Homo sapiens: one gene and its partner. The protein of the gene in region 1 interacts with the protein of each later gene in a pairwise test. Each region holds a gene or a part of one and is shown in the gene's direction. Other genes may lie near its edges.

Region 1 (3,830 bases):
AGACAAAGCCAATTTTTTTCTGAATATTAAGACTTTGTACCCATATAGCAGTTTTGCCTCATTAAAGGAAAAGATCTGAAACCGCTATTGTTTATTGAATTGAATTACCTTGGAAATAAACACCACTTAAACATTTCTCTCACCTACTTTTCCAAATAACCAATAATAATGTACTATTTCTGTTCAGAACTTAGAAGAATAAACCTTTTATTATTTTTTGCCAGGAATCTTAAAGTTCTTATAGCTCTCTAGTTCATTAGAGGTAAGCAAAACCAAACAAATTTTAAAGGCTGGTGTCCACCAACAATTTTTGGAAGCTTGAAAAAGGTAGCTTAGGAACTTTGGATAAGTAGAGCAAATGATGAGATACTGGAAATGCATAGGAAACAAAATGATTATTCATGGAACCAAATAAAAGCCTTCCTTACATTAGAAACTAAAAGCCATCAATGGTTTTATTAATATGTATATATAAGTAAAACCTAAAGAAGAAGAAACAGCAAATAAATGCAAATTAAAAGAAAAAACAAACAGGAAACCAACCTGAAAATTTTCTACTCAGTTTAACTTGGAGGCTATAGTGTTACCCAGAGCCAAAAAAACACATGATGAATATTTTGTTCCTGATGCACAATTTAATGTCTTTAAGTTCACCAATACCACTATATATTTTGTGCAATTAAGAAATTCACTTTAGGCTGGGCGTGGTGGCTCAGGCCTGTAATCTCAGCACTTTGGGAGGCCAAGATGGGTGAATCACTTGAGGCCAGGAGTTTGAGACCAGCCTGGCCAACATGGTAAAACCCCATCTCTACTAAAAATACAAAAATTGGCCAGGCATGATGGCACACAACTATAATCCCAGCTACTCTGGAGGAGGCCGACCAGTAAGTATTATACTGTAATGATAGTATATCTATGCAGAAGAGCAAATACAGTGTGAAGCAATGCAAGCATGTAGGTGAAATTTGGTTGTTGCTATATCTGGCTTTTATCTGGCTTCATGGTTAACTATATTAAGAAAGGATTGCCAAACTGCCAATGTGTTTCTTTACAATATTTCTTATTTTACTTTCATCAAGACTAAGAGCTTTAACTATGAGCAGTGTTAATTAGCCAGATTTCTCCAATATTCTATCTGGTTTTAAGAGAATATTATTTAAGCCTTTTATACTTTGTATTTTCTCTGTCTGTACATAAAGGTAGACACACAAAGAAATAGGAAAGAAACTACATGACTTACACACACCATCTATGATATGCTTAGACTTTCTGATTTGTCCTGGATTTTCGTTCTTTTTCTTCTTCTTTTTTTTTTTTTAAACAGTCATTTTACTTTAGGACAAAAAAAATACCATTATAAGATGCTTTGTCATACAAAATTATTTTCTTTATAACCTTCCTTACCAAAAATACATCTTTATACTCATAACTTTCTCCACATCTCTCTCGTCTACTTGTTCTTTTCTACCTTGTTTCATAAGTAACCTTTCAAGTCCATAATTATTAATAAACTTTAGATAACTTCTGAGTTAGATAAAATTTTTTTCTGAATAAAAACACATTGTCTTTTGCACATTTTATATATAGAATTACATATGAACTAGAATTCTTATCCTTAGTAACAACCTTAAATTTCAGTAAAAACCTAGGAAGCAAGAAATCTTGAGCTGCCTAGCAGATATTAGTATTTTATAGATGAGAACCATTCCACAATTTTTAGAAACATGTTCCCCACATCATAACCTTTTCTTAATTGGAAATGACTCAAACATCCAATGATTATATTTCCGATTATGCCAAAAGTTCATTTACAGCATTTGACCATTTACATTTTATTTATTTTTAGCAGTTTATCTAGATTATTTCTGCATCATTTCCTTCTTAACCATTTTATAACCTGTGAATGTCAGGTGTTCACCTAAATAACCTTAAAATTAATACGTGGGCATTTTGATCAATAACTCAGAAGATTCAGCTGTTTTCATTAAACTAACAGCATTAAATTAGTCTTATAAAGAATTCACACAAATATTCACTGGGTTTATAGCTTTATAACCTGCTGCCAAACTCTGATACCTCAAATTATCTAGCTGAGACAAATATAAAGCCGAGACAAAAATGTATGCTGACAATTCTGAAGACATTTCTATTTTTATTTTACCAATAATTTTAAAGACAGCTTGTTTATTAAAGATTTACTGAAGTCATGTGAACTTGAAAAACACTTTGGACTTAATTTATGAGCACTCTTATTTATAAGCCAATTTGGTAGGTATAGTGTATAACATAGTTAATGTACATCTAGATAAACACATCTAAACATGTATACACACACAAAGATCCAACAGCTTTTACCTTGGAACTCTAGCCATGAGATAGCAATACAAACTCACGAATCTACAACCAAGTCCACATGGCTAAAATTTGTTTGCTCCAATCGGTAATCCAATGAAGGCTGTGAACCAGAATTTTGGGTAAAGCAGTTTCCATGGCAGTTTGATTTTTAGAAGCTAGATTCCAAAGAAACCTGGGGCCAAACAGCACTACAGAAGAACGTCATGTGGAAACTACTCACCAGGCCCAACCCTGCTTAAAACAGCGGCATAAAAGCCAGAATACATGGGACTCCACCTGGCTTTCCCATTCAACAGCCAACTCCAGATTCCAAAGAATATTGGGGCAAACGTAGTACAAAAGAATATTTGTTTGTTGAATTCTAATTTCCCATTACTATATTGACACATACAATCAACAAAACACAATCCGACTGCTGAAGCAATAGACAAGCCCGAACAGTGTCCAAACTGAAACAGTCGAGGTGCTTTTCTCTCTCAATCGGGCTTTATTAACCTGCAAACAGAAATTTCTTAGGAATTTTCCAAATTGAGAGAAGCCGATCCCACTGTCTGGTACCCAAAAAAGACACTAACTTGGCCAGACACAAACACAGAAATTACAAACACGCTCTCTAGAGTATCATACTGAGAGTCAGGGTGCTTCCCTTTCTTAGTCAGTTGGGCTGGTTTAACCTGCAAATGGAAGCTCCTTTTAAAATTTTCAAATTGAGCAGATCTTGCTGTCTGGGCCAAGAAAGGACACTCACTTATCCAGATGCCAGTGTCACATTTCAAAGGCTGTTCTTCCTAGCAATCAGGAACTCAGCTGGGGCTGGCAGCAGCAGGGCCAGAGAGACCAAAACTCACTTCCAGCCAAAATTGGGTGGGCAGTTGCTTAGGAGGGCTTCTGAGACTCCTAGACCACAGCAACCCAGCCACAAAAATCTGTTACTGAAGCACCAGGGGTTTGGCCTAGGTCCTCCTGGTAGCCACACAGAAAGCCAAACAGGGAGACAACAAGTATTGCCAGGGAAGAAGCCTTTAATTGGGAGCTGTAGCCAAGAAGATGAGAGATTAGTCTCAACTCCATCTCCCTGACCCACTAAAATTAGGGGTTTATATAGCAGGGAAGAAATGTAACTGTGTGGGAAAACAGGAACTCAGGAAGCAATCATGATGAATGAGGGGCCTGGCCTCATTGTCTGGATGTGATAATCTGGTGAATTTCAGTTTGATACTTTTTGAGAGGCCTGGTGGTCTTTTGCCTGAGAAAGGATCTCAGATAAAACAAGTGTAAGCTTCAAGTTTAAAGACCAGAAGGGTCAATTTCTGTTTTTCTGGAATAAATGTCTGTGGGACTGTGGTCAGTTTCAAGATTGCTTTTTGGAGTGTGAGTAGAAAGAGCCTGGGACGGAATCCTGTGCAAGCACTCATTTAAGAGATGAGCAGAGGAGGAAAAGAGACTGGGAAAGAGTGCCACATATGTGGGCA
Region 2 (3,830 bases), on another chromosome or scaffold:
AATGGCCTCTTATAACTGCCAAACATTGAGTTTAGCTTTTTCTTCCCTGAAAGATCATGCAGTAAATGTTGACTTTGCCCAGTACCCAGTAAATGAGATGTTGCTGCTCTAAATGGGCCTTTATGTCCACACCTCTCAAATCACAGTGCCCCAGGATAAACATGGCCCATCCTTCCCAGTCATCTGTTTTATCCTAAGACTTGGAAGAGGAACAAAAATACATTTTATTGAAAGAAATTTGGATACATTTCTGATTAAGACATCCACAGCAATTTTAGGATACAACTTCCAAGTCAATTTATGGAAGCAGAGGGCTGCTCTGGCGTCCTCGATGGTGCGCATTTACTCCTCTCCACTGTTAGGGCTGGTGTGGGGAGGGTTTGAGGAGTTCTTTTTCACAGAGGCCTGTGTTTGTGGAAAAGGCCTTCCAGCTTAGGGGTTTGGTCCTCTGTGGATCTCTGGGTAATAGCAGTATGGCCTTGACTTACATGCTTCAGACAGCATCTTTCCAAACTCCACATTCTTTGGAGCAACTTCATCTTGCGGTCTCCTAGGGAAACATTTCATTAAAGTAGAAACCGAGTGAGCCCAGTCCAGAAATAGCCATGGAAATCCAGAGAAGAATATGTGGAAATGTGACCAAATCCCAAACAAATGAGGCTTATTTGTAGAATGAACATACAATTTATTGTCCAGATGGAGATGCATTTGAGCCGCCAAGAGGGCACTGTTTATAATTACAGCAAGTATGAAACCAGGTCTATCCCGGTAAAGCAGGGATGTATGGTCACTTTTCTTACTTGGAAGGAATGAGGAAATTTTCTGTGAGCTTTTTCCCCGCCTGCTGTGGGCTTCACAGTGGAGTTCTTAAATCATATCTCAGAGGTAGTCTCAAAAATGATGAGGAAGAATCAAAATTTAGGCGCTGGAACCAGGTTAAGGACATACAAATCAGTTTGAGAATTATTGTACGTTTGCTTTTTTAAAAATGTTATGACATACTTATTAATGAAACCGAAATTATTTCATGTATATGATTAGAACTGTCCAAGTCAGATCTCTTTTTGGGGGAGATGGAATTGTTTTCGTGTTTCTCTGGGTTCCATAGAAGCAATACTCTGTTGCCTAAAGTCTTTGGAAGTTGCTGATCAGTAGAAAACATGTTTACATCTTTGTTTGTAGTGTATAGAGCATGAAATCAAGAGCCTGGAAGATTTACAAGATGAATATGACTTCAAATGCAAAACCTTGCAGAACAGAGGTAAGGGTTCACAACTGAAGTGGTGCCCGTTGGCTGCAATTTTTTCTGTTCACACTAGATAACGAAGATGATTACTCCTTTCTATTTGCCGAGTATTTTATGACTCTGAATTCTTCCTTGATAACCCAGGCCAGGGCTTCTCAACATCCAATATTATTGACATTTCGGGCTAATTTGTTGTTGGGGCTGTCCTGGCATTGTAGCGTGTTTAACAGCATCCCCGACTTTTACCCACCAGATGCCAGTAGCACTACCCAGGAGCCCTCACTAGTGACAACCAAAACTGTCTCCAGAGATTGCCAAAAGTCCCCTAGGGGTCAGTGACCCCTACTTGATAACCACTGGTTATGTGTTACTCACCATATTTATTGCGCCTAGCCCACTGACTGACACAGAGCGATAGATATGTGGAGTTCCCCTGCCCTAATATCTCAGGTTTCTTCAAACGTTGCAGGGCCACGTGTATACACAGCAGATAAGCTCAGTATTTTTCTCATGTTTTAAAGCAGTTTTACTGTATTTTCTTACTGTTGCGTGTTTTTAATGAGAGTAGCAACAGAAAAGATCTCAAGAATGTACATTGTGTAGGACACGTAGGGTACTGCTGTTACTCTATTCATCATCTGGGGTATACCATGGTTCATAGGCAGAGATTATCAGTATGATTTGGGTAGAAAGTATAAGAGACAGCAACTTCAACTACCACTTCCTACTCATCTACTTCTCTTTGAAAGCTACAGCTATGCTTTGTATACATTTTTTATCTGAATTCTGTTCAGATAAAACATTTTATTATTTACATTTATTTTTATAATAATAATAACATTATTATTAATGTTATTTACATTTATTTAGGTAATTACCTGACAGTGTCTTAAGTGGCAGATACTACTATGTCTGATTTACATGGGTCACTGAAAACAAGTTTTTTTTGTTTTTTTTTTGTTTTTTTTGTTTTTTTTTGGAGACGGAGTCTCGCTCTGTCGCCCAGGCTAGAGTGCAGTGGCGAGATCTCGGCTCACTCCAAGCTCCGCCTCCCGGGTTCATGCTGTTCTCCTGCCTCAGCCTCCCGAGTAGCTGGGACTACAGGCGTCTGCCACTGCGCCCGGCTAATTTTTGAAAACAAGTATTTTGTTTCAGTGTGTCTAGTTGTTATACTTAGGACTTTTTTTCATGTTCATTAAAGATCGAAGAAAGCCAAACTTTGACCTGTCACTAGGCAGCATTTGTGTCATATTTATCCTAAATTTATATGAATCTTGGCTTTTGTTGGTTTTGTCTTCTTTATATATTTACTGGCTGTCTCTCAATTTATAGAACACGAGACCAATGGTGTGGCAAAGAGTGATCAGAAACAAGAACAGCTGTTACTCAAGAAGATGTATTTAATGCTTGACAATAAGAGAAAGGTAGTTATTTACTTTCCAGAATAGCATGCCACTTTTGTTATACACTGTAAATAATGGACTCAAAGTTTAGAAGAGAGGAAAAATTATAGCCACCTGGCTTAGAGCCCCAGTTGAGAATGAAATGATATTTGCTTTTCTTTTAAAAAATATTTTAAAATTCAGTGATTAAAAATGAATTTATTTCACTTTGTTTCTTCTATTGCCTTTAGGAAGTAGTTCACAAAATAATAGAGTTGCTGAATGTCACTGAACTTACCCAGAATGCCCTGATTAATGATGAACTAGTGGAGTGGAAGCGGAGACAGCAGAGCGCCTGTATTGGGGGGCCGCCCAATGCTTGCTTGGATCAGCTGCAGAACTGGTAAGATTCTCCAAAGCAGAAAACTGGCAGCTGACTGGCTAACCACATAAACACATAAATGTACCTTTGAGCTGTGTTAGTTGAATGGACCCTGTCAAAACATTAGTATAGAGTTTGACATAGTCCAGCTTCTGCTTACCCTGGAAACACTCCCTTGGAAAGCACAGTGTTATTCATGACTCTCGCCACGTTCAGCCACGTCTGCTTGGTTTGGAGCACTCCTGTACCATGGGGTGTCGTTTGACTGTACAAAACATCAGTGACATGGTCGTTATAGAACACATTTAATGACTTGACTCTTAATGTTTCCTTAAAAACAAGATAGCTTGAGGCATTTTTCTAGGCTTACAGAATAGTTTTTTAGGAAACATTCAGTCATCCATCCAGTAATACTTATTAAATGCCTACTGTGTGCCGGGCACTGTAGGACCTGGGCACACAAGGATGAGTGATTCTTGGCCCTTGCCAACAAGGAGTTCTCAGTGTGGAGGGGGGGATGTAGACATGGTAATAATTCGTGTGGTAAAAGTATCCAGGTGCTCTAGCAAAAGGCCATCAGAATTCTGTGGAGGACAAAGGAAAGCATCTCCAGGGAAGGTTTCATAGAGGAAGTGGCCTTGTGCTGACTCAAAAGTCACTAGGATTACTCCACGTAGATCAAGGGGAAGTGCTTTCCAGCACAGAGCACAGCGTGTGCAAAGGCACACATGTGGGAGACTGCAGGGGCTGTATTGGGTGGCTGGAGAGTGGGGTGTCCAGGGAGATGGGAAGGAAAGTGGACCCGGTGGGAGATGCTGGA

The links.
Region 2: the proteins of RIGI (region 1) and STAT1 interact in binary tests that used the Homo sapiens proteins (3 or more experiments, as listed by UniProt).

Annotation. Positions count from the first base shown.
Region 1 is NC_000009.12:32,515,876-32,519,705, reverse strand, and holds part of RIGI (antiviral innate immune response receptor RIG-I), read left to right. Parts: intron 1-3,830.
Region 2 is NC_000002.12:190,997,057-191,000,886, reverse strand, and holds part of STAT1 (signal transducer and activator of transcription 1-alpha/beta), read left to right. Parts: intron 1-1,182; coding exon 1,183-1,261; intron 1,262-2,578; coding exon 2,579-2,670; intron 2,671-2,879; coding exon 2,880-3,031; intron 3,032-3,830. UniProt on the Homo sapiens protein: Signal transducer and transcription activator that mediates cellular responses to interferons (IFNs), cytokine KITLG/SCF and other cytokines and other growth factors.